Homo sapiens: one gene and its partner. The protein of the gene in region 1 binds, or shares a complex with, the protein of each later gene. Each region holds a gene or a part of one and is shown in the gene's direction. Other genes may lie near its edges.

The links.
Region 2: the proteins of HCRTR2 (region 1) and HCRT are in contact, whole or in part, in a cryo-EM structure (PDB 7L1U), measured with the Homo sapiens proteins. Residues at the interface, in NP_001371201.1 of Homo sapiens: Thr111, Val114, Trp120, Pro131, Gln134, Thr135, Val138, Gln187, Val209, Cys210, Asp211, Phe227, Thr231, Ile320, Ser321, Asn324, Lys327, Arg328, Phe333, Ala334, Thr336, Arg339, Val342, Tyr343, Phe346, His350, Tyr354; in NP_001515.1 of Homo sapiens: Asn89 (codon at 5,276), His90 (codon at 5,279), Ala91 (codon at 5,282), Ala92 (codon at 5,285), Gly93 (codon at 5,288), Ile94 (codon at 5,291), Leu95 (codon at 5,294), Thr96 (codon at 5,297), Met97 (codon at 5,300).

What each region holds. Positions count from the first base shown.
Region 1 is NC_000006.12:55,166,986-55,180,216, forward strand, and holds the start of HCRTR2 (orexin receptor type 2), read left to right. Parts: upstream 1-7,529; 5' UTR 7,530-7,602; coding exon 7,603-7,825; intron 7,826-13,231. UniProt on the Homo sapiens protein: Nonselective, high-affinity receptor for both orexin-A and orexin-B neuropeptides. Triggers an increase in cytoplasmic Ca(2+) levels in response to orexin-A binding.
Region 2 is NC_000017.11:42,177,741-42,189,560, reverse strand, and holds HCRT (hypocretin neuropeptide precursor precursor), read left to right. Parts: upstream 1-4,108; 5' UTR 4,109-4,195; coding exon 4,196-4,216; intron 4,217-5,032; coding exon 5,033-5,407; 3' UTR 5,408-5,501; downstream 5,502-11,820. Other genes in the region: voltage-gated delayed rectifier potassium channel KCNH4, read left to right, coding at 8,616-8,691, 10,535-10,768, 11,084-11,230, 11,334-11,461. UniProt on the Homo sapiens protein: Neuropeptides that play a significant role in the regulation of food intake and sleep-wakefulness, possibly by coordinating the complex behavioral and physiologic responses of these complementary homeostatic functions.

The sequences.
Region 1 (13,231 bases):
TCCACTGAAGAAGAAACTTGAGTGTTTGCCAGCATGTGGGAGGAGAGGAAAATCAGTAGTTATGAGGTTTCTGGAATTAGTAGTGCTGATGGTGACACAACATTGTGAATATACTATAAACCACTAAATGATACCTCTCAAAATGGTTAAAACATTACTGTTGTGTTATGTGAATTTTACCTCAATTAGAAAAGAAAAAAATCTTATCAATAACAAAGAGAAATTTCCACACAAGGTGGGATCGCTTCCACAGTGCTACTCAATGCAGTTTAGCGATTGCATTTGTATTGGAGTAAAAGCATGTCACATTGCTTTTAACATTGGAGTCCAATACATAAACCTCTTTCACCATAACTATATGGAGTTCATTGTATGTATATTTATTAAAATGGAATTAAGATGAATTTCACAACACAATGGATCATTTTTTTTTTCATGTGGAAAATCAGAACACATGCCTTAATGGTTACATGCCCCACCTGCTGCTCACCTAAAAGTAAATTTCCTCTAACTCAGACAAATATGTTATTTTCAAGGAAAAGAAGCCCAGAGAACTGAGATCCAGAAGAAATAACATGTATTGAAAGCACACAGAAGTATTTCAATGAACTCAAACCCAAGATTGTAGAAAACTCTCATGTGCCCCTGGGACTGATGTTTGAAAATACACATATTTTGCTCCTACTCTTTCCTTCCCCAGATCCCACCCTTCAGAGCACCCGACGATAATGGATAGTTTCTAGCAGGGTGTCTGGAATGGGCAAGTACCCCCAAAGTTATAGTTTGTACTGCAAGACTTGAACCCACTCTTTTTCTGCCCTCTATTATTATTTTTGCATTTTAACCATTTATTATTTTGAAAAGAAAAGAGAATTTTTAGAATATGGAAAGAGGAAGTGAATTAATAAAATAGCACACCCTACATAGAGACTGCTAATCCATCTCCAGTCTAAAGATTTAGTAATAGGCAAGAATATACATATCCAGGAATTTCCTTGGTGTTACATAAACAAAGGCGGCACATATGTATATTTTTCACAAAATATTCACTGTTTGAAGAAGGAATTACTCCCTTCAATTGAGTTCAGGCCTGATCAACAAGTAGTGATTGGCCAACAGCTAAATGCAAAGTGCATGCTAAGTCTGGGGATACAAAGATGAATGAGAAAACATTTATGCCCTTAGGAGAAAAACAAATATCTTTATCTCAGAGAATAGAGAAGGAGATTGATTCTCTTTGGGGGAGATGTCATCCTGAAGAGTATAACAAGTTCCCCTATAATTCTACTTTTCAGTACTGTTTAAAATACAACTGGATTTTTTTAAATATGTAAAATTTATATAATTTTACAAATGTCTTTGTTAAGAATTAAAACTATCATTAGTAAAGGACACAGCTGGAAAATTGAAAACATTTTGGTTCTCTACTGTGGAAACAGAATAGAGTAACAGCAAAAAGCGTATTTCTGGAATTGGACCCTGACAACTCTGCTTAAACACTCCACCACTTTCTAGCTATATGACCTTGGGTAAGTTACTTAACTTCTTTGTGTGTCAGTTTCTTCATTTGTAAAATTGGAATAATAGATGCTTTTTTTGAGACAGTGTCTCATTCTGTTGCCCAGGCTGGAGTGCAGTGGCGTGACCACAGCTCACTGCAGCCTCAACCTCCTGAGTTCAAGTGATTCTCCAACTTGAGCCTCCCAGATAGCTAGGACCACAGACACATGCCACCATGCCTGGGTAATTTTTTTTTTAAGTTTTTCATAGAAATAGTGTCTCACTAAGTTGCCCAACCTGGAAAATTGGAATAATAATTCATAAAATCTTCCTCCTAGATTTGTGAAGATCAATTGAGTTAATGTATGTAACGTACTTGGCACAGAGCTTGGCCCATGTAATCTCTCAATGAGTGCTAACATTACTTGTCTCACAAAAAGTTACTTACTTCCGTCTGGCACCAACTCCCTCTCTCACTTCCCACAATCTGGTTACCATTCATTCTTCAGTTCTCAGCTTAAACAATGTCTTTTCCATATGGTTTCATTGACGCCACTTTGGGAAAATAGATGTCTCTTCTGCTTGCATTTTCAGACCTTTTTAGGTGTATACCTTAGGGCATTTGCTTTACTGACCAAAATTATTTGCCGGCTACTCTGTGCTTTTCATGACACACTGAATAAGACAGGAAGAGTGTTTATCTATGCTCAACATAAGATAGGCATATAATGGAAGCTTCGTATATATTTGTTGAATAAAAAACATAAGGGGAAAATATCAGATCTAATAATGCAGGACAGGAGGCAAGATGGAACGGAGAGAACCTTGTCTGAGAAGAGACATAATTAAAACAGGGCATGGGAGGTAATAGAAAGATTGGAGGAAAAAGAGACAGAGAGACAGAAATGTTTGTGGTAATTTGTGACAAGTAGCTTTGATTGTTCATGGCCTAATCTTTTAGGGCATGAGGTTATTTCATTCTCTGTAGCCCACCGAGAGTGCGTACAGTGACACATGTTATGTAAGTCCCCTTTTCCCTTTTTATAAATGTCTAGACCCCCTGTGATTTGAGACTTTTCTAGAAGAATTTAGCTGAAGACCATATTGTTTTTTAAATGTAGTATTTGGAGCCTAGAGGTGCCAGATAACTTCCTGCAAAGCTAATGCATTTATTTTGGGAATATATAAGCTCAGTATCATCATTACCAACAGTGCTCAGACTTGATTTTATTTTCATTCCAACAGCAAAGGAAAGAAAGCAACTTCTTTCATGCTTCCATGCCACTCTGCATCTCTCTACCTTCACAGAGTTTCTCAATAATGGCAACATTTCCAGTTCACCAATGGACTGAGAGATCATTGAGGCTAGACTAGTCTTATTAATCCTTATACCCCAGCTCCTAGCCGAACTCCTGGACACACAATAGATACTCAGATACATTTACTGAAATGCATATAGAAAGTTACACCTGCAAAAAAGATGATCTCTCACCAGGAATAAGAAAATATAATCTGGGACAGCCCATATATGAGATCTCTAAACAACCTACCTATAACCACCAAGAAAAAAAAATACCTGAGTTTGAGATTTATTTTTCCGTCTCATTTTTAATATATTCCAGTTAGTGAAAGAGCTAAAATAAATGACAAGAAAAATTTAATCTAGGTATTTAAACAGAATTATTCTGAATGTTGTGAGCTACATTTCTTTTTTACCTTTTATTTATACATAGTATTTGTATATACTTATACAATATATTTATTTTGTATATATAAATATATTGTATTTATTTATACATGTAAATGTATAATATATTTATTTATACATAGTATTTATATATACATAGTATTTGTATATATTTATAGGGTACATGTAATATTTTGTTACACGCATAGAATGTGTAATGGTCAAGCCAGAATATTTAGAGTATCCATTACCTTAAGTATTTATTATTTCTCTGTGCTAGGAGCATGTTAAGTCCTCTCTTTTAGCTATTTTGAAATGTACATTGATGTTAACTATCATTAACACAGAGTAATTGATATGTATAGCAAATAATATTTGCAGTAGGATATCACATGTTTACTTATTTATTTATTTATTTATTTTTATTATACTTTAAGTTCTAGGGTACATGTGCACAACGTGCAGGTTTGTTACATATGTATGCATGCGCCATGTTGGTGTGCTGCACCCATTAACTCCTCATTTACATTAGGTATATCTCCTAATGCTATCCCTCCCCCCTCCCCCACCCCACGACAGGTTCCAGTGTGTGATGTTCCCCTTCCTGTGTCCAGGTGTTCTCATTGTTTAATTCCCACCTATGAGTGAGAACATACGGTGTTTGGTTTTTTGTCCTTGCGATAGTTTGCTGAGAATCATGGTTTCCAGCTTCATCCATGTCTCTGCAAAGGACATGAACTCATCCTTTTTTTGGCTGCATAGTATTCCATGGTGTATATGTGCCATATTTTCTTAATCCAGTCTATCATTGTTGGACATTTGGGTTGGTTCCAAGTCTTTGCTATTGTGAATAGTGCCGCAATAAACATATGTGTGCATGTGTCTTTATAGCAGCATGATTTATAATCCTTTGTGTATATACCCAGTAATGGGATGGCTGGGTCAAATGGTATTTCTAGTTCTAGATCCTTGAGGAATTGCCACACTCTCTTCCACAATGATTGAACTAGTTTACACTCCCACCAACAGTGCAAAAGTGTTCCTATTTCTCCACATCCTCTCCAGCACCTGTTGTTTCCTGACTTTTTAATGATCGCCATTCTAACTGGAGTGAGGCACTGGTCTGAAAATATCAATTCATTTAATTCTTTTAACAACCTTAAGGGGATATCATGGTACAAATTTAGAGCTTTCTTTTGTGTTTGTAAAATGGATTGATTCCTTTTCCCTACATCCAGCAGAAATATTTGAATTGAAGAGAAGAGTAATACCTAAGAACTAGAAATTCCTTTCTTATGTTTCAAAAGATATCAAAAGATCTAAGGAAGATATTCACATCAAAAATGAGTATTATAATATTTATTATCTATGGTGCACTTGCAAAAAAGAAAACAAGTAATAATCTGAAGATTTAAGTGAATATTTTATGACATTGGAGTACCACATATTTAGAAGAAAGCACCAGAGAAATCATAGATAGAAGGAAATGGAATATTTGTAGGATCAAGATAAATACAGCTTGTCATAAAATAAAGCAGGTATCAGGATAAAATCTTGAAAATATTTTCATTTCTCGTTATTTATAACTTCAATTTACTGTGATGATTAATTGTAGGTGGAAGATTTACGAAGAGAAGACTGAAGTATAGACAAGTTGAAGTGCCACAAAATGAAAGCTAATGACACTGACTACTTAGGAAATAGCAGACTGGGTCCATATTTATAGATTGTCAATGACAAGGAATTTGCAGATGTTAATGAATATAGATCCGAACTTAAGTTGCAACAACCTTTCCCACTTTGAGATGAATAGTGCATGGAAGAGTAAAATGCAGATGTTAATAAATCAGAGGAAGACATCGTGCCAGAGTATAAAGTTGACAGATTTATGCCGATGAACTTGAACAAAGCCACAGAAGGCCTACTTGTCAAATTTACTGGTGACAACAGGTCTGGAGAAATGGCTAATGTTTTGGATAATAGCATTAGAATTTAAGGTCTGTTTAAACTTCAAATTAACAGAATGAAATTAATATATGCACATATCAATTGGGTCTTTTGCTTATATATCATCTCTTAATAGAGCCTTTTTGAACAATCATTTCTAATGTGACCTTTGGGATTTTCTACTCATCATCACCTCATCCTGTTTGGTTTGCATTATAGCATCTATCCCTTCCTAACGTTTTCCCTATGTATTTGTTAGTTTGTTTTTTTTTAATCTAACTTTACTAGAAAGTAAAATGCATGGAAACAGCAACCTGTTTAACTTTGTATCACTAAGAGTGGAAAAATAACCCTCAGGAAATATTTGGTAAAATAATAAAATGCCCATTGATGCCCTTCTCTTAAAAAGAAATTTAATTAGTGCAGATTGGGGAAATACAACAATATTTCTCATAAAATGTGATATCTATACAATAACAGAAGTACTATGTCCCAAAAAGTATTCTATAAATAGAAGAAAGAACAGATGGTTTTGCTGCTGATTAATCCATTTATCTTTCGTAAATCATCTAATTTCCCCAGGAACAGCTTCCTCATCTATTAAAGGGGGTTAGTAATAGCTAAGCCCTCAGGGGTTTAAAAATGCATATGAAATAATTTTATAAACCATAAAGCACAAAACAAATATGAAAAATTATGATTGGAGGAGGGGGTGGGGTAGTTAACTAAATCTCAGTGTAAACCACCAATGTCTTGTGTGTGTTGAAAAAATAATTACATATAAAAACTGGTTGCATCCAAAGAATAATGTACTTTTTGCACTGGCAAGACTCAAACCATATTATTGTTACTTCCTCCCAGTTACATATTTTGCAAGATATTGACAATTGTCTAAAGGAAGACCAAACAGATGTAGGTGGGAGCTACTGTCATTTGAACAACATTGAAAAGAAAAATACTAAAAAAGAAACATGAGGGCATATAAAGGAGCGCTGGGGCTGTGATGTTTATTTTGAATCTGTGAAGCATTGTCATGTGGAAGATTTATTCTGTGTAGCACCAAGATGCAAACTAGGAATTAGAGGTAAAAGTCTCAAAAAGACAAATCGTGGCTTGAGACCTTGGTTTAATGTAAGAAACAGTTTTCTCACCCTTAGAGCACTCCCATAAGGATGGAAGTAGTGAATTGTGGTGGTCACATTCAAGCTAGATGGGGACATGTCAGCAATGTTATCAGGAGGCTTCTACTCTGAAGCTGAAGTTCAGACAAGATTTCCAGGCTCTTCCCAAGTGCAAGATTGTAATTACTTAAATGCAATATTTTTACCATGTTTATTAAGAATAAAAGGATCATGAATTCACATTCTGACAAATGCTAGAATACTTATTATTAGAGACAAAACCAGTGCATGAGAGAATGGCAGGTGACATCAGCCCTGAATCAATGGGAAGAAAGACCCAATGGGATGTGGTATTTACCAGAGAGAGCACTTCTGCTTAGATTGCTACATCCTACAGTGAATGTTTAATATCATTGAGTATATTGGTGGTCTGTCATGCTTGACAACATTAACTATGATCATATTTATGACACTTGGCGTCCTTCAAGAATTTGTAGCTCTATTTCACATGACACTTAACTATCGCAAATACAAATTCCAGCTAAATAGACCCTTCAGTTTAAAAACAGTCTCATTCTCAAATTTTAAGGAGAAAGTGAAGACGGAGATGTCTTAAAGACTCGGCAAGTACTAAGTTGGCAAATGTCAAATGTTAAAATAAGTTTATATTAAATGTTAAAGTGTTTGCCTGGAATGACTTTTCCATTGTCCTGCTTGAGAAACACAGAGGCACCTCCTTATTGCTTTTATATTTGCTTTACAAAGACAAATGTATCAACATGCTCTGTATTAATTGTATGTTGACATTTTTGTCATATCCACAGACTGATGCATGTCTGTGCATGGTTTATAATAAGTGCACGTAAAAATAGAGAAAATAAGTAGAAAAAGAGAGAGATTTAACTCTCACCCCCCACCCCCCAAAAAAACAGATTAAATTAGTTTTCATTACTTTTTTTTTTTTCTTCAGCTTCAGCTCTCCCTCAGCGAGGGAGGAGGCTGTGGGCTGCGGACTGAGTGCTGGAATGAGGAGTAATTGAGCTTCAGCTGAGCCGGACGTAGCTTTCTCCTCCTGGTGTCATTGCTGCAGCCTCCAGTGCCGGGTCCCTAGTTCCTCAGCTGCCTATCTTCCCGGTGCAACATCGCCTGTAAAGACAGCAAAGCCACCGCAGAAGTTGCCCGGCAGAAGACTCCGGAGGCATTGGCTCAGTAACTTTTCACGTCATTTTCTGCTCGGGAGCCCCTTCTAGCCTCTCCGCGCAGCCTTTCCCACCGCAAATCACCAGTGCTCATGGGGCAGGCGGAGAGGAGCTTGCAGCATTGAGCGGAACCGGACTTGAGCCCGTGATGTCCGGCACCAAATTGGAGGACTCCCCCCCTTGTCGCAACTGGTCATCTGCTTCGGAGCTGAATGAAACTCAAGAGCCCTTTTTAAACCCCACCGACTATGACGACGAGGAATTCCTGCGGTACCTGTGGAGGGAATACCTGCACCCGAAAGAATATGAGTGGGTCCTGATCGCCGGGTACATCATCGTGTTCGTCGTGGCTCTCATTGGGAACGTCCTGGGTGAGTCTCCTCCCGGGCAGCCCTCCTAGGGGCTATCACCCCCTCTCCGCCCCGGGCTGAGAAGGCTCTAAAGAGACCCCTCCCTCCCCCGGGAAGCAAACAAAGAGGTCGCTGCTCTCGGATGGGGTTTTCTAATAAAATAATAATAATAATAGAAAGTTTTCTGATTTTCCGAACCGGGACCGAGCCCTGGAAAGGTTATTCCCTGTTTTGCAGGAATAACGGGGAAACCGCGTTTCTTTTTCGAGCACCTAGATTACAAGCGCAGGGAGAGGGGCCGCGGCAGGGATCTCCAGGTGGATTTTGTTGAGTGTGTGTGTGTGTGGGTGGGTAGGTGGGGGAGTCAGTCATCCCTTTGTGTAACGTGGCTGGGTGTTTCAGGGGGGTTGGGACGAGACAGAGCTTGCAGAATACAAAGCTACATCCCTAAGGAGCAAGCTCTCTGTGGCTGTGGAAGTCACAAAGCATTTGTGAGCTAGGTGGCATTGCCCTTTGGCGAGGAGGTTTAGTCTCCAGTCAAGAGGTGGTAATGAACCAGCAGGGAGTGGAGACGGAGGCAAAGCAGGGAAGTGCACTCACTCATAGAAGCTGAATTAAACAGGATCCATGCCTGGAGCAAGAAGGAGGGGCATCGGAGAAAAGTACCACAGAGATCTCAATCATCCATCCATCCATTCATTCTTACATCCATTCAGCCAAATATTTTTTTTTTTCAGTCTGCTTGTTGCCAGGCTCAGGAATTATTCATGTCAACTGTTTGTTGTTGTTTTGTTTTGTTTTGTTTTCTCCAAAGATGAGACTAAGCTTAATGCTAGGCTATTTGTCCCGGTCTAGGTCTGTATGCAAACACGGGTTTCCTCGACCCCTCATCCCCCTCCCCCTAAACAATTTCTGAGGGTTGGGGAGGGGGTGAGATGGCAACATGGTGAGTGCGATGATGGAATGTATTAGGGCAGTTGGGGAATATACCTCCAGAAAAGGGGCTTTGGAAGGGAGGGATAACTTGAAATAAATTGTGAATGGAAGGAGAGTGTACCTTGATGAATGAAGAGTAGAAGGCTGGGAGACTTTTCACATGCAGAGGGCAGTGTGGAGGAAGTCTCTGCTGAAAATGACAGGAGATGGAGGAGGCTAGGAGTTGCTCTTGATTTTCATTTATAAAAGAAGAAGAAGGTGAGTGAGGTGAGATAGGCTGGGAGGCTTTGCAGTCAAAAGCAAAGAACTTGTAGCTGCAATGGGGACTGACAAGGAAATTATCAGGCTTTCAGACTAACCTGATTTTTGCCTTCTCTCCCAAGTGTGTTGGTCTGGGTAGAAATCATCCCGAGTAGTCTCTCACCAACTCAGCAGGCAGAATAGATGATAGTATGTGAATGACAGGAGTTCTCCAGAGTGTTGGTAGAATGTTATTTGAGGAGACAAGAAACCTCTGAGAACTTTAGTACATTTTTAAATATTATTTTTAGACTGTTTTCCTTTGGTTGATTTAAAAGTAAAAATAAAGGAAATCTTTTTGGGATACTAACAAAATGAAACAAAAGTGGAAATACACAAGATTAGGATTCTTGTTATAAGCATAATTCTGTTGATAATAATCCTAATCTTGCTTTCCTTCTTCTTGTTACCCATCCTTAGGATTACATCTCTTAAGACACATGGCTACCAGCATAGCAACATTTTACTGCATTATGCCAACACTTATTGATAAGTGAATAATCAAAATTGAACATATATTGAGTACCTACTGTGTGCCAGAGCCCTTCATGTACATTCTCTCCCTTAAATATCAAAATAACCCACATTAGCCAGAAGAAGAAACAAGACTTAGAGAAATAAAATGACGTATTAAGGGACATAATTTAAATTCAGTTCCATTTTTTCTGACCTCAGATCCAGAATTCTCCATTGTTATTCCACTCTAGAGCTAAAAAGCATATAGAGAATAGATTCTCTGCTCCTGATTGTCTGCAAGTTTATTAGATGTGTTCCTGTTCTCCTCTGCATCAACGCCCACTGCCAATAAAGTACAATGAGGGATTAATGGCACTGTCATTCTCTTCACCAAAAACCTTTCCAGAGAAGCAGTAATTTTTTTATGAATAGCTATCAATAGTAACTATTTGCCTTCCTTATTTTAATTTTCGGCTGAATCTTTGTGGTAAAATGTGCTCTTCTTTGTTGTTATTGCATTTTTACCTTGCATAGACCTTGTAGTGAATAGTCTCCATATCCTAATTGCATAGTTTAGGGATACATGTTTGCTAGCCTGGGGAGTTTTAGTTTCAAGAAGGAAACACCTCTACAGTAAGGCTACTTGTTTCATAATGTCAAGGAAGATAGCACTGTCCACAGCCCCAAGTGCTGAAATGGCCAATTCCATTCAGCCTAAAAAGAAAGATTTACTCAAAGCACTCTGCCTTAAAGAAACTGACAGCTATTTTCCTCAGGACTGAATAACACTGAAATCCTCTCTGGTTGAACTGAAATGCATTCTTTTCTGACATACTGCCTGAAAGTTGATGAGGTTTAGGTTTGACATTTAAACAAACGAGTAGTGTCGTTACTCACAGACAACTTCCTGCTCTTTGATGTCACTGTCAAATTTGCAAAATGAATTAGATTGAGAATTGCTTCTTTGCCCCTCTGGTATAAGTAATTTTGCACATAGAGTGGTAGGACAGGATGTCACATGATTTATGCAAAATAAAGATGCAATATTAAGTATGAAGGTAAAATACCACAGTGTAGGCAGCAGATGTAATCACTGAGCCTTCAGGTCCAGTCACCATTTGTACTTTCATATAACTGCTTGGAAAATCTCAACCTTTTTGGGCTTACAAATATAATGCCATCAGTTAGAAGTCATCTTCTCCACAATGTCCTTTCATGAAGTGATGTAATAGGATATGCTGTGGGTAGCATAACAAAGTCTTGATTGTCCTCATCTCTTTTTCTTCTCCCCATAGTCCCTCTTTATCACTATGCCACCTCTCCACTCTCATATACTCCTCCCAAAGATGGAAAGCAGTTTCCTGGGGGAGTAAAGTTTTAAATAGAATGTTATGAGTATTTACATTCAATGAAAAGCTGTAAGCATGTTTAATGTGAAATTTTAAGTTCTAAGGAAGGAGCATAGGGTAAGGTTCTTTTTGGAAGGAGTATCTTTTCAGTATCTTCAGAATAATGCCACCTATAACCTATTCCTAACTATGTCTTCTACTACAGCTAAGTAGATGTATCAACTTATTCAATTGGTATATTGTGAGCATTATCATTTTTTTAAATTAGTGTGTATATCAGGGGAGCCTCTGGGGAAATGTAAAGAAATGTGACTGATGTTAATTTTTACTCCTGATTCCTTGAATGACAATTGTAGGGAGAAATGTGTTCTAGTCAGTTTAAACATTAAGTACCTAGGGAAAATGATCAATTTTCTGCTTCTCATATCTGCATTCAAAGATATCATATGTTTCATCTGGTATGCTTCTGTCATATCTGTTGTTGTCTCCATATGGAAAATAGGAAAACATCAGTCTAGCTATGCTTCTTGCTTCTTGTGTGCCATTAGCAAGTTATTGAACTATCCAAGTCAATTTTTTTATAATTACAAATTAAAGATCGATAATGACTGCATTATAGAAATAGTATCAGGATATAATGTACGTATACCCTCTATAAAGACATATAAAGGGACACAGGCATATACATATTTTTCTTGACACATAGACACTAATTAATGTCAATTTTTATCCCTTAATTTTCATGACTGAACTTTTTGTGATGTGGTGTATAGCCAGCTTCTGCCTTCATGGGCCAGTCTGTATCTCTGTAGCTCTTTATGGCCTCTGCCCCAGCCTTTTCCTTAATTGCATATTTTCCTAAAAGGTGTGAATAAAATGGTGTTGGCACACATTACTCTCCTTTTCCACACTAGCTCCACCCACCCATCTCCTTCATACTGATTGCTTAACATTGCCTTCTTGCCTTTAAATGAAAGCCATTCCTAACTATTGGAATAGTTTGCTTTCTCTCTCAACTTAAATTTGCCTGTGCTGGGTCCCATTCATTTAGAGTTTTTGAGTTGTTAATAGGTTGTTGATAGGCAGGTCTATCACTACTAGTGTTTTAAATAACACACACATTGGTAATATGTTGATTTAACTCATACATTGTTAAAATACATTGTGAAGTATTCATAGTTAAAATAAATTATCCATTAAGTAATTTACCTAATAACAGTTTACCCAAGTTAGGTGTGTGGAATGGGGAAATATTTGTAATAAGTTTGCTTCCTACAGAGTTAGTCTTGTGTCAGATATGTAAGTGGTAGAATTGCAAGTTCATGTTACTCCTAAGCCTAGAGACATTTATTTTCTGCTTCTCCGAATGCCCATTTTAGTTTCATGGGTGTTTGTAAACCCATCCTTACCTACACAGGAAGCAAAAAGGGGTTATTTCTAAACCCTTTTTAGATATAGAAATAATACATCACTCATCTCGGCCAAGACTCAATAGAATCATGAATAGTGACTGTAAAAGGTAATATTAACTATTAGGCTTTAAACCTATTGTGCATTTTAGTTTTAAAATGCAAACATGCTAATCTGAATAAGAATTAATCTGATGCCTCTACATTTTTGCTAAAATCATAACTGTTTAGTCTTACTTAGTAAAATAAATTATATCTTTGACTTAAAATCCCAATGATAACTTTTAAGATGGCTATTTCATAGATAACAGCAACATTTATCATGGACAGACAATAATGAGAATAACATGTGCAACTGATAATTTAAATGCAATGAGTTATTTCTGTATTTGAAAAAATATATTTGGGAAATGGGATAATTAAAAAATACCAGTTTTCAAGAGACCAAATCTAAAACTCAAACATAAACACAATGCTCCAGTTTTTAGAAAACTGTCTTGATTGTAGTAGTGCCTACATACTAAATTGTATCATATGATTTATATTAATTTTCCTTATTTTGTATTTTAGATTATATTTGAAAATTTTCATGTACTGCAGCTATGTTAGCATCTCAAAGTCTCCATATTCTCACTCCGCTCCGAAACATCCACTGCTGATGTTATTTAACTAGTGAAAGAAGATCCTTCCATGTTTCTTCTTATAGCATTCTGACATCTTCTCCACCCTAAGGAATGCTGGCTTTATTAAGTATGTTTCAGTCAATGACATGTGATTGGTGAAGCTGACGGTATTTGTCTTCAGTTCCTTTTTTCCCTGCAAAGGAAATTTGTTGAATATTTATTGGGTACTATATGCCAGGTACTATATGTCAGGCTCCACTTACATATACTCTATTGATGCCTTACAACAAACTTATAATGAGAAGATTAATAGGTTTTACAAATAAGAAAAATGAATTCAAAGAGCAATGCTAA
Region 2 (11,820 bases), on another chromosome or scaffold:
AGAGGCCTTGGCCCAGCTGACCGGTTCTGAAGTATGGGCCTCCGGGGTTAGCAGATGCCAGCAGTGCCTGCCCGTGTCCCCATGTCCCGGCATGAAGGACACTGCTAGAGAGTTACCATGCACACCGATGGTTTCCTGTATCACAGCCCAAAGAGGTTCTCTGGTGGCCACAGCTGTGTGCTCAGTCAGTGCACTGGGCAAGCTAGAAGTGTTGGGGGGTTAATGTCCCCAGGAGCAGCAACCCTGAGTCAATAAGGAGCAGGACCTCAGCTTCATTGTCCTTGAGCAGGACAATTCTGAAGTGTATTCTACATAAACTCTCAGAGGATGCCCAGCAGGATGGAGTCCCAGTTGCCCGCAGCAGTAACCCACTCATTCATGTACTTCCTGCGGGGGCTCTCCCTTCCCTCTCTTCCCCACTCCCCCGCCTTGGGCTTCCTGGGATGGCTCCCAAATAAACCTCTTGCACCCAGATTCTTGCCTCAGGGTCTGCTTTGGGGAAACGGGAGTGGACCCCGGCCCAGCCATTCCCCCACTGAGCTCCAGGACTTTCCCCCAACATTCTGCTCTGGGCCTGGCAAGGCTGCATGCGCACACAGGAGCCTTGGAGGACTCGTGGCACATCCTAGGCCAGCACCCACAAACCACTTCTGCGGTGGGGAAGGGAGAGCTATTACTTCACATCATAAGGCATCGCCGCAGGAAGCAACTCCGGAGACCATCTGGGTTCACTGTTCCATACTAATGAGGAAACGCAGCCTCCACAAGGTTGTAGAGGCTAAAATAAAAGAAAGAAAGAAACTGGGCTAGATTTTGGCTTCCTTCCCTCCCACTGCCTGGACTGGAGTTTTAAGGTTTTCCATCTTGGAGGCTGATGGGAGGGGCAGACCTCAGCTCCTCCTCAGTAGAGGCAGCACTGGATCCAGATGCCTCTGAATAGCTTCTCCATTCCATGTCCCACACCCAGGTCCTGGCTGCATACCCACCCGGCCCCCACCTCCGCCTGTCACTCCATCCTGTTAAAATCTTCCTGTGAAGCTGGGCACAGTGGCATGGGCCTATAGTCCCAGCTACTCAAGAGGCTGCGGTGGAAGGATGGTTCATGCCCAGGAGTTCAAGACCAGCCTGGGCAACACAGCGAGACCATCTCGGGAAAAAAAAACAAAAAAAAAAACCTCCCATGGTGGCCCCCATCGCCCACAGGATTAAGACCAATCAATTTGGCCTATTAGACCCTTTGACCTTGGCCCTCACCTACATGTGCAGCTACCTCTCTCCCCTTGCTTGAAAGAAGGCCTGGACTAAGGACCACGCCTCACCTCCCATCTAAGGGTTGTTAAGCACTGTCAACTCCAGGAGTTTGCTCAAGTTGTCCCTTCTATGTAATGCCCTCTATCCCGCTGCCCCTGATGTAAACTAGCTTTCATGCAAGGCCTTTGAGGACCCCCTACCAGGCCCACCCCAGGCAGAGTGACTGGCTCAGCTTTGCTCATGTGGGCAGTAGTCCTCTCCTTCACTGAACTATCATTATGCCTGAACTGCCTCCCACCTGGAATATGAGTTCCTTGGAAACTGGGCTAGATCCTGTGCACAATTGCCCCCATGCCCAGTGCCTGGTGTGGCATGCAGCAGGAGCTCAATAAAGAGGTTGTAGGCCAGGTGCCATGGCTCATGCCTGTAATCCCAGCACTTTAGGAGGTCGAGGCAGTCAGATCACCTGAGGTCAGGAGTTCAAGACCAGCCTGGCCAACATGGTGAAACTGTGTTTCTACTAAAAATACAAAAAATTAGCTGGGCATGGTGGTGTGCACCTGTAAACCCAGCTACTTGGGAGGCTGAGGCAGGAGAATTGCTTGAACCCAGGAGGCAGAGGTTGCAATGAGCCAATATCGTGCCTTTGCACTCTAGCTTTGGCAACAAGAGTGAAACTCTATCTCCAAAAAAAAAAAAAAAAAAAAAAAAAAAAAAAAAAAAAAAAGAGGTTGTGAATAAGAAGCTTGGGCCTGGAGATGACATGTGTTCTTCAATGCATGGCGGCTCACTCCGTGTTGACTGTAGAGTGGGACTACATTCCTCCCCTCCAGGTAGCCTGAGCCAGGGAGAAAGCTGGGGAGGTAGAAGCTTTCTATCAGCCTCTGGTAGAAACTGAGTTTGGTCAGGCACAGTAGCTCACACCTGTAATCCTAGCAGTTTGGGAAGCTGAAGGGGGAGGATGGCTTGAGCCAGGGATTTGAGACCAGCCTGGGAGTCCCAGTCTCTACAAACAAATTTAAATATTAGCCAGGGATTGTGGCATGCATCTGTGTGGTCCCAGCTACTTGGGTGGCTGAGGTGAGAGCATTGCTTGAGCCGTGGCATTTGATGCTGCAGTGAGCTATGATTGTCCCACTGCACTCCAGCCTGGGTGACAGAGTGAAACCTTCTCAAGAAAGAAAATAAAGAGGGCTGGGCGTGGTAGCTCACGCCTGTAATCCCAGCACTTTGGGAGGCCGAGGCGGGCAGATCACGAGGTCAGGAGATCGAGAACATCCTGGCTAACACAGTGAAACCCCGTCTCTACTAAAAATACAAAAAATTAGCTGGGCGTGGTGGCGGGCACCTGTAGTCCCAGCTGCCAGGAGGCTGAGGCAGGAGAATGGCGTGAACCCGGGAGGCGGAGCTTGCAGTGAGCCGAGATCGCGCCACTGCACTCCAGCCTGGGCGACAGAGTGAGACTGTCTCAAAAAAAAAAAAAAAAAAGAAAGAAAAGAAAAAGAAAAGAAAATGAAGAAAGAGAGAAGGCCAGGCATGGTGGCTCATGCCTGTAATCCCAGCACTTTGGGTGGCTGAGGCAGGCGGATCACCTGAGGTCAGGAGTTCCAGACCAGCCTGACCAACATGGAGAAACCCTGTCTCTACTAAAAATACAAAATTAGCCAGGCATGGTGGCGCATGCCTGTAATCCCAGCTACTCAGAAGGCAGAGGCAGGAGAATTGCTTGAACCCTGGAGGTGGAGGTTGCAGTGAGCTGAGATTGCGCCATTGCACTCCAGCCTGGGCAACAAGAGTGAAACTCCGTCTCAAAAAAAAAAAAAAGAAGAAGAAGAAGAAAGAAAGAAAGAGGGAGAGAGTGAGAGAGAGAAAGAAAGAAAGAAATGCAGGAAGGAAGGAAGAAGGAAAGAAGGAAGGAAGAAAAAAAAAGCGGGGGGGCCTGGTGCAGTGGCCCACGCCTGTAATCCCAACACTTTTGGAGACTGAGGTGGGTGGATCACTTGAGGTCAGGAGTTTGAGACCACCCTGGCTAACATGGTGAAACCCTGTCTCTATTAAAAATACAAAAATTAGCTGGTTGTGGTGGCGTGTGCCTGTAATTCTATTCAGGAGCTATTCAGGAGGTTGAGGCAGGAGAATCGCTTGAACCCAAGGCGGAGGTTGCAGTGAGCCAAGATGACCATACCACTGCACTCCAGCCTGAGCAACAAGACCAAAATTTAGTCACACACACACACACAGAAAAGAAAGAAAGAGAAATTGGGCTTGGTTTTGGCTTCTTACCTCCCACTGTCTAGGCTGAGTTTTCAAGGTTTTCCATCTCAGAGGCTAGTGGAAAGGGCAGAAGGGAGAAAAAAAGCTAGGGGGAGGGGGCAGCTAAGGAGCCTTTCCATGAAGGAAGAAGGTCCTGGAGCCTGACAGTCCCCAGGAGCAGCGACAAGAAGCAGGGGAGGGAGAGGACTGCTGCTGGCTGCTCCACCCCCCACACACATAATGTGGGGTCTCGCGTCTGCCTCTCTCCCGCCCCTAATTAGCAGCTGCCTCCCTCCATATTGTCCCAGGCCAGCGCCTCTTTTGTGCTCCCAGATTCCTGGGTGCAAGGTGGCCTCATTAGTGCCCGGAGACCGCCCCATCTCCAGGGAGCAGATAGACAGACAAGGGGGTGATCAGGGGCACAGTGATCCAACCCTGGCCTCTGAACGCCGCAGCGGCCATTCCTTGGGCCCAGCCTGGAGACGGCCCCCCTGCAGCAGGCTAATCTTAGACTTGCCTTTGTCTGGCCTGGGTGTGGACGCAAGTGCCTGTCAATTCCCCGCCACCTCAGAGCACTATAAACCCCAGACCCCTGGGAGTGGGTCACAATTGACAGCCTCAAGGTTCCTGGCTTTTTGAACCACCACAGACATCTCCTTTCCCGGCTACCCCACCCTGAGCGCCAGACACCATGAACCTTCCTTCCACAAAGGTAAAGATCCAGGGATGGAGGGGTGACTCACCATCCCAGAGAAGCAAAAAGAGTGCTTGCTCAGAGGGCTGGAAGAAAGGCCAAAGGTGTCTCCACTCTTGGTCTTTTCCTGGGTGTGCTCTGAGGCAGGAGCACCTGCCTTGGCTCACATTGGGTTGGGTGCTGTTTTGCTAAGAGCCTGTGTTTGCTGAGCTCTATGTGTCAGGTGCTCCGTTTGCACCTGTCATCTCTTGTCATCCTCCCAACAGCCTTGCAGAGTAGAAATTATTTCTAGTATACCCAGTTTACAGGTAAGGGAGCTGTGCCCTCTGAAAGGGCAGGAAACTGGTTCAAAGCAACGGAGTTCAGTCACTCCTGCAAGGGGGCAGGCAGATGAGAGAGCATTCTGGAGTCTTGCTAGTTCCTGATTTCCATGTGTTTCCCTGCTGTGGAGAGGAAGTTGGGGGGACTCAGTAGGGCCCGGGTTTTTCCCAAGTTTACAACTTCTGCTGCAGACAGACACTCCTGTTTTCAGGTGGAGTGGCAAGTGCCCTAGTGGTGGCACAGTGGCCTAAGTCTCCAGAGAAAAGGGGGATTCACTCTGCCCAGGGGGTCTCAAAAGGCTTCCTGGGGGAGATGCTCTGCTGGGTCTTGAAGGAGGAGCAGGGAAAGTAGGCCGATACCAGCAAGGGCGCAAAGCAAGGAGAACTAAGTGACAGCCAGAAAGGAGTGCAGGCTTGGAGGGGGCGCGGAGCCAGAGGGGCAGGTCCTGGGCGTGGGAGCTGGTGGCGGGCGCCGTGGGAAGACCCCCCCAGCGCCCTGTCTCCGTCTCCCTAGGTCTCCTGGGCCGCCGTGACGCTACTGCTGCTGCTGCTGCTGCTGCCGCCCGCGCTGTTGTCGTCCGGGGCGGCTGCACAGCCCCTGCCCGACTGCTGTCGTCAAAAGACTTGCTCTTGCCGCCTCTACGAGCTGCTGCACGGCGCGGGCAATCACGCGGCCGGCATCCTCACGCTGGGCAAGCGGAGGTCCGGGCCCCCGGGCCTCCAGGGTCGGCTGCAGCGCCTCCTGCAGGCCAGCGGCAACCACGCCGCGGGCATCCTGACCATGGGCCGCCGCGCAGGCGCAGAGCCAGCGCCGCGCCCCTGCCTCGGGCGCCGCTGTTCCGCCCCGGCCGCCGCCTCCGTCGCGCCCGGAGGACAGTCCGGGATCTGAGTCGTTCTTCGGGCCCTGTCCTGGCCCAGGCCTCTGCCCTCTGCCCACCCAGCGTCAGCCCCCAGAAAAAAGGCAATAAAGACGAGTCTCCATTCGTGTGACTGGTCTCTGTTCCTGTGCGGTCGCGTCCTGCCCATCCGGGGTGGCAAAGCGTCTTGCGGAGGACAGCTGGGCCTGGAAGCCCGGCTGTCGGGCACCAGCCTTAGCTTTTGCGTGGTTGAATCGGAAACACTCTTGGTTGGGGAGTTCCCAGTGCAAGGCCCTGGGGCACAGAGAGAACTGCACAGGTGCATGCTTGGATCGGGCCATGCGGGACTCCTACGATGCTCTGCTAGGCATTCTGTAGCGGGGACTTTACCCAGAGACGCGGAAGGGGAAGGAAAGCAAGAAAGGTTGCAGCGGTCGGGCGCGGTGCTCACGCCTGTAATCCCAGCACTTTGGGAGGCCAAAGCAGGAGGATCCCTTGAAGCAAGGAGTTCGAGACGAGCCTAGGCAACATAGTGAGTGAGACATCTCTCCAAAAAGTTTTTTTAATTAGCGGGGTATGGTGGGCGAGAGGATTGCTTGAGCCCAGGAGTTTGAGTTTGAGCCATAATTGGGCCACTGCACTCCAGCCTGGGCAACAGAAGGAGGCACTGTCAAAAAAAAAAAAAAAAGAAAGAAAAAGAAAAAAGAAAAGAAAGAAAGGAAAGAAAGGAAGGAAGGAAGGAAGGAAGGAAGGAAGGAAGGAAGGAAGGAAGGCAGGCAAGCTGCATAGAGCAGCAGAATCCAGCTAGGAAGGGGTGGGAGTCAATCCTGCTGAAAAGGCAGGGAATTTGAACTTCAACAATGAGTCATCCAGAATGGCTGCATCATGGGGTATAGGGTGTGGGGAGTGGAGAGGCTCAGGAAGGGACACAGTTACAGTCAGTGCAGCACAGCTCGCAAAGGCTCTCACAAATCATCGGGCTTTGCACTTTATCTTGTAGGTAACAGAGTCATGGGACATTCTTAAGCAGGGGCAGTACAAGATTTTACTGCAACTCCAGCCAAAGACACCTGTTACTGGTGTTCCCAAAATCCATATGTTGAAGTCCGTACCCGTGGCACTTCAGAATGTGGCTGTATTTGGAAATAAGGTCCTTCCAGATGCAATTAGTTAAGATGAGGTCATACTAGAGTAGGGTGGGCCTCTAATCCACTGTGACTGGCGTCCTTATAAAAAAGGGAATTGGAACACAGAAACACACACAGGGAGAACCCATGTGAACATGAAGGTAGAGATTGGCTCCTACAAGCCAAGGAACACCAAAAATTGCCAGCACCCCCACCCCCAGAAGATAGGGGAGAGGCATGCAACAGATTCTCCCTCATAGCCTTCAGAAGGAACCAACGCTCTTCACCTGACCTTGCTTGGACTTCTAGCATCCAGAACTGTGAGACAATAGGTTTCTGTTGTTTGAGCCACTCACTTTGTGGTACTTTGTTATGGCAGTCCTAGGAAACTAATATAACATCCAAAAGTAGAGACACAGGCTAGGCTCCGTGGCTCATGCCTGTAATCCCAGCACTTTGGGAGGCTGAGGCGGGCGGATCACTTGAGGTCAGGAGTTCAAGACCAGCCTGGCAAACATGGCGAAACCCCATCTCTACTAAAAATACAAAAATTAGCCGGGCATTGTAATGCACGCCTGTGATCCCAGCTACTAAGGAGGCTGAGGCGGGAGAATTGCTTGAACCCAGGAGGCAGAGGTTGCAGTGAGCTGAGGTCATGCCACTGCACTCCAGCCTGGGCAACAGAGCAAGACTCCGTCTCAAAAACAACAAGAACAAGAACAACAAGAACAACAACAACAACAAAAGTAGAGACACAGAAAAATGTGGCACTTCTTAGCAATCTAACATCCCAGATAATACCTAGCTCAGAGGGTGGGGAGAATTTAGCCTGCCCTCCTTGCCCATAGGGTTCCCACTTTCACTGCTTCAGCTGTTTTGTCGTGGGAAGCAGCCACCCTCAGCCACAGAACTCAGCTGCCTCAATTTTCTGCATAGGTAGTGAGAAAGTCCTGTGTCTAGTCTCACTTTGGTCCCTCTTGCTGCTGTACTGGTTCCATCTTGGAGAAGTTAGAGGTCAAAGTTCACATGTGCATCCTTGGAGATTTGCAAGCCATGACTCTGCCCACCTCGAAACTATCTTTTTCAGAGGTAGTTTCTCCCAAACTTGCCTCCAGCCTCTCTTCCACTTGAAGGGCAGCAGAGAGGAGGATTAAGACAGTAGGAAGAGGGAAAACAGGCAGGCAACTGCCCTTCAAGACACTTATTTTGTACCAAAGACATGCATTATGGTATTACATTCTCACGGTAACTGCATCAGGTAAGAATTATCAGCTCCATTTTACAGATGAGGAAAGTGGGCTTGGAGAGGATATCACACGATTGGTGTCTAGAGCTGGGACTCTACCTGGTGGACTCCAAAGCTCTTTTCATTCCACCATGCTGTGTCTCAGTAGGCAGAGTTCGCCAGGGTGTCTTGGGAAAACTGAGGCAGGAGGTAAGAATGGTGCTTTCTAGAGTTGGGGTTTCAAGCCTTCCCATTGTCCATTCTCTACCAGCAAACTAGCCTCTTAACCCTTGCTGTCTCACGCTGGAGCTACTGGCCTGTGGGTGCTGCGAAATATGTCAACTCCAGTAGGCGGCACTGTGAACCAGACACCAGCCCAGCGTGGACGCCGCGCGGGAAAACCCGCGAGGTGGAGCCACAAGGAGCAGCCAGGGAACCACGTGTGGAGGCGTGGCCAGCCTGGAAGAGGGCGGGTCTGTTATTCAAGCCCCGCCCATCATTTCAGGCCTCCCCTCCCGGTGGGCGTGCCCCGAATTCTCTCCCCGAGAGACACGCGTGGGCCGCTCCCCTCTGGGAGGAGGGCTGCCCAGAGGGGTGCGGGTGTCGCTAGCGGCCCCTCCCCGTGTGGGGCCACGTGGCGGGTGCGGGCCGAGCCCGAGGGGAAGAACCTGGCCCGTGGGGAGGTGGGGGGGACCGAAACGGCGCTGAGCCGAGCCGAGAGCTACGGGGTTCGGAGCAGAGGCAGCGGCAGCGGCAGCGGCAGTAAGAGGGAGGGGAGGAGGCAGGAGGGCGCATGGGGCGCCCCGGCCCCTCCGACAGCGCGCCCCCTCCGGCCCGGCCGCGCTGAAAGCTCCCCAGCGCCGCGCCTTGAACCCACGCCCCGGGGCCATGCCGGTCATGAAGGGGTTGCTGGCCCCGCAAAACACCTTCCTGGACACCATCGCCACCCGTTTTGACGGAACGCGTGAGTGGGACGGAGGTCGGGGCTTGAGGTTCGAGCTGGGGGGCAAGTATCCTCGGGGCCGTCTCGGATCTCCTGGACATGGTGAGACCCGAGGCGAGGGGAGAGAATGGAGGTGCGGGTCTAGGAACTCCCAAAGCCGCGGTGCAGGAACAGGGCGGGGAGTGCCCTGCGAGGGGAGGAGGGGAAAGGGCCGAGAGCACGGGGGCCAAGGTTAGGGGGTGTGACTCGAGGCAGAAGAGGCTCTTTGTGCGGCAGAGCGGAGGAGGGTCCTTCGGAGCCGCCCACTCTCGGGCAGAGCTGTGCTGGGGGCGTGTATGGGGGTATCCGAGACACAGAAGTGGGGCAAAGTGGCCGGGCATTCTGGGGTCTACTCACAGACTCCAGCTCCCACTACCTCCAGAAAAAAAGGAGAAAAGATCAGACTTCAGCAGGACCTAGTTTGGATTGAGGTCGCGCGCCCCCAAATCGTGGGGCGTCAGTGTCTAAGGTGGGTGAGGCAGGAGGAGGGGAGCGGTCTGTGCGACGGTGGGAACTCCCAGCTCGCCCAACGTAGCTTGGGTTTCAGGTTCAGCACCTTGGACAGCCACATCACTCCTCCCCCGCCTCTTCTCCCGCCATTCCCTCTTCCCACTCTGGAACCCAGAGATTCCCCGCCCTCACCTCCCCCAACCCCGCCATTCCCTCGGGAACCCTGGCCGGGATCTGGATGGTGGGGGAGCGGTACCCGAGGGCGGAAACTGAGCCGCCGGGCCCTACCCTCTTCCCCACCACCTTGTTTCCATAGCGCCCATCACCGGGGCAACAGGCCCTGGGATGGAAGAAGGAGGCTGTGCCCAGAGCCCAGTGCCTCCCAGGCACCTTCAGTGTCCCCATCAGCCTCCCTGCCCCCAGACAGTCATCCCTCCTAGAGCACCAGGACTGGTTGTGTCACAGGCCCCATCTCTTAGCTGAGTCTCTGTCCCTGGATGGCCCACAGGAGTCCCCCTGGCCTCCCACCCATTGGAGCTGGAGGGAGACAGCTCGGGTTCTGCTGCTGGGGGTTGCTGGAGCTATACGCTCAATGCCCTCTCCCATTAGACTTTGAGCAGTGGGGCAGATCCCCTGAAAGCAGCTACAAGAATGCTAAAAAGTGGACCTTCTCTGGAAGGCAGGGAAGGAAGACAGCACTCATCACTGTCTGCCCCCACACTAAGGAGATCTGTGAGTTTGGATAATCTCTGCCTTTTGGTTTCCTATCAATAAATGGGTGTGGTGTCATCAGAATCTCTGCCCTGCTTACTCTGTAATAGGAAGAAAGCCAAGTGAATGTGGGGAAAAAATTTCACCTTCTCAGAGTAGCACTTACCATGTGCTAGGACTTGTTCTCCCCAAGTTAACTCATGTAACTCTCACAACGACCATGTGAGGAAGGCCTATTATGCCCTACTTTGCAAATAAGGAAAGCTTAGGCACAGAAGAGGTCATCAACTTGCCCAAGGTCACACAGTTAGTAAGTGGCAGTGGAGGGTTGCAGGAGCCCAGGCTCTTACTCACCATGCTATACTGCCTTCTACAGTGACAGCTCACCAGTTGGAAGGCAGGGGGATGGATGGCATGACCTCCTGGGGTCCTTCTCCAACTCCCCGTTAGACCCTGCTTAAGTCCTGTCTCAAGTCCTTGTCTCTTTGCTCCAACTTCTCCAATTCTCAATTCAGAATATCCCAAAGTGGGGTCAGGAGCAACATGGAAACCTGGGAAGCTTCTGGCTCTGTGACTTCTAACCCCAACTTAGAGGAAGTGCTGCCCACCTGGAAGCTAGCTCGCCTCCCAGCCTTGACCTGACCTTGACCTCTTCTTCCCACAGACAGCAACTTCCTGCTGGCCAACGCACAGGGCACACGGGGCTTTCCCATCGTCTACTGCTCCGACGGCTTCTGCGAGCTCACAGGCTACGGTCGCACCGAGGTCATGCAGAAGACCTGCAGCTGCCGTTTCCTCTACGGCCCAGAGACCAGTGAGCCAGCCCTGCAGCGTCTGCACAAAGCCCTGGAGGGCCACCAGGAGCACCGGGCTGAAATCTGCTTCTACCGCAAGGATGGTGAGGGGGCTCACCCCACCCTGCAGCTCTGCCTAGACCCCTAGCCTTATCCAGAGGGCACTGGGCACAGTAGGAGTCTGAGTGCTTGTCCCCACACTGCCAAAAGCTGACTGTGACGGAGCGTATCCCTGACCTCTCTGGTCCTGGGTTCCCCCATTTGAAAGATGAAGGAATCGGCTGACAGAATCTCTGAGGTTCCTTTTGGTTCTTGCTTTGCCAAGCTCTTAACTATGTCTAGGAGGATGAGAGGGATGAGGAGAAAGGCATGCCATGGGGCTGCCCATGCTCCTCCCTTCCCTCTCTCCATGCCTACAGGCTCAGCCTTTTGGTGCCTCCTGGACATGATGCCCATCAAGAATGAGATGGGGGAGGTCGTGCTGTTCCTCTTTTCCTTCAAGGATATCACTCAGAGTGGAAGCCCAGGACTTGGCCCCCAAGGAGGCCGCGGGGACAGTAATCACGGTAACAGCAAGTCCGGACGGGCAGTGTGAATGGTCAGAAGCCTTCGCCTAACCAGCCGCAAGGGATGTGCCCCAACGTATCTCTGCACCTTTCTTCCCAACAGAAAACTCCCTTGGTAGAAGGGGAGCCACCTGGAAATTTCGGTCTGCCAGAAGACGGAGCCGTACTGTCCTACACCGACTGACCGGCCACTTTGGCCGCCGGGGCCAGGGAGGCATGAAGGCCAATAATGTGAGTCCCACCCCCAACCCAACATCTCCCAAGTCCTCCAGCCTTGATTCTGAGGCACCCCTGCCACTGTCTCCCCACTTCCCTGTCTGTCTGGTGTCCCTCCTTGGCTTGCTCCTCTGCCCACCCATTTCCCATATACTACTCTATATGGTATATGCTCCATCCTATATCCTCCCCCAACATCCTTCTATCCCTATCTCCCTCATTCCCTTAGGTGATTGACATTACTTTGCTCCGATGATGTCACATTGCTCTAGCAGCAATGACCTCACCTGCCCGGGGGTGATAGGGTTATACCATGGGTGGTGAAATTGCAAGCTGCTATAGTTCTAGGGAGAAAGCCCTCATTGCAGGCCTGG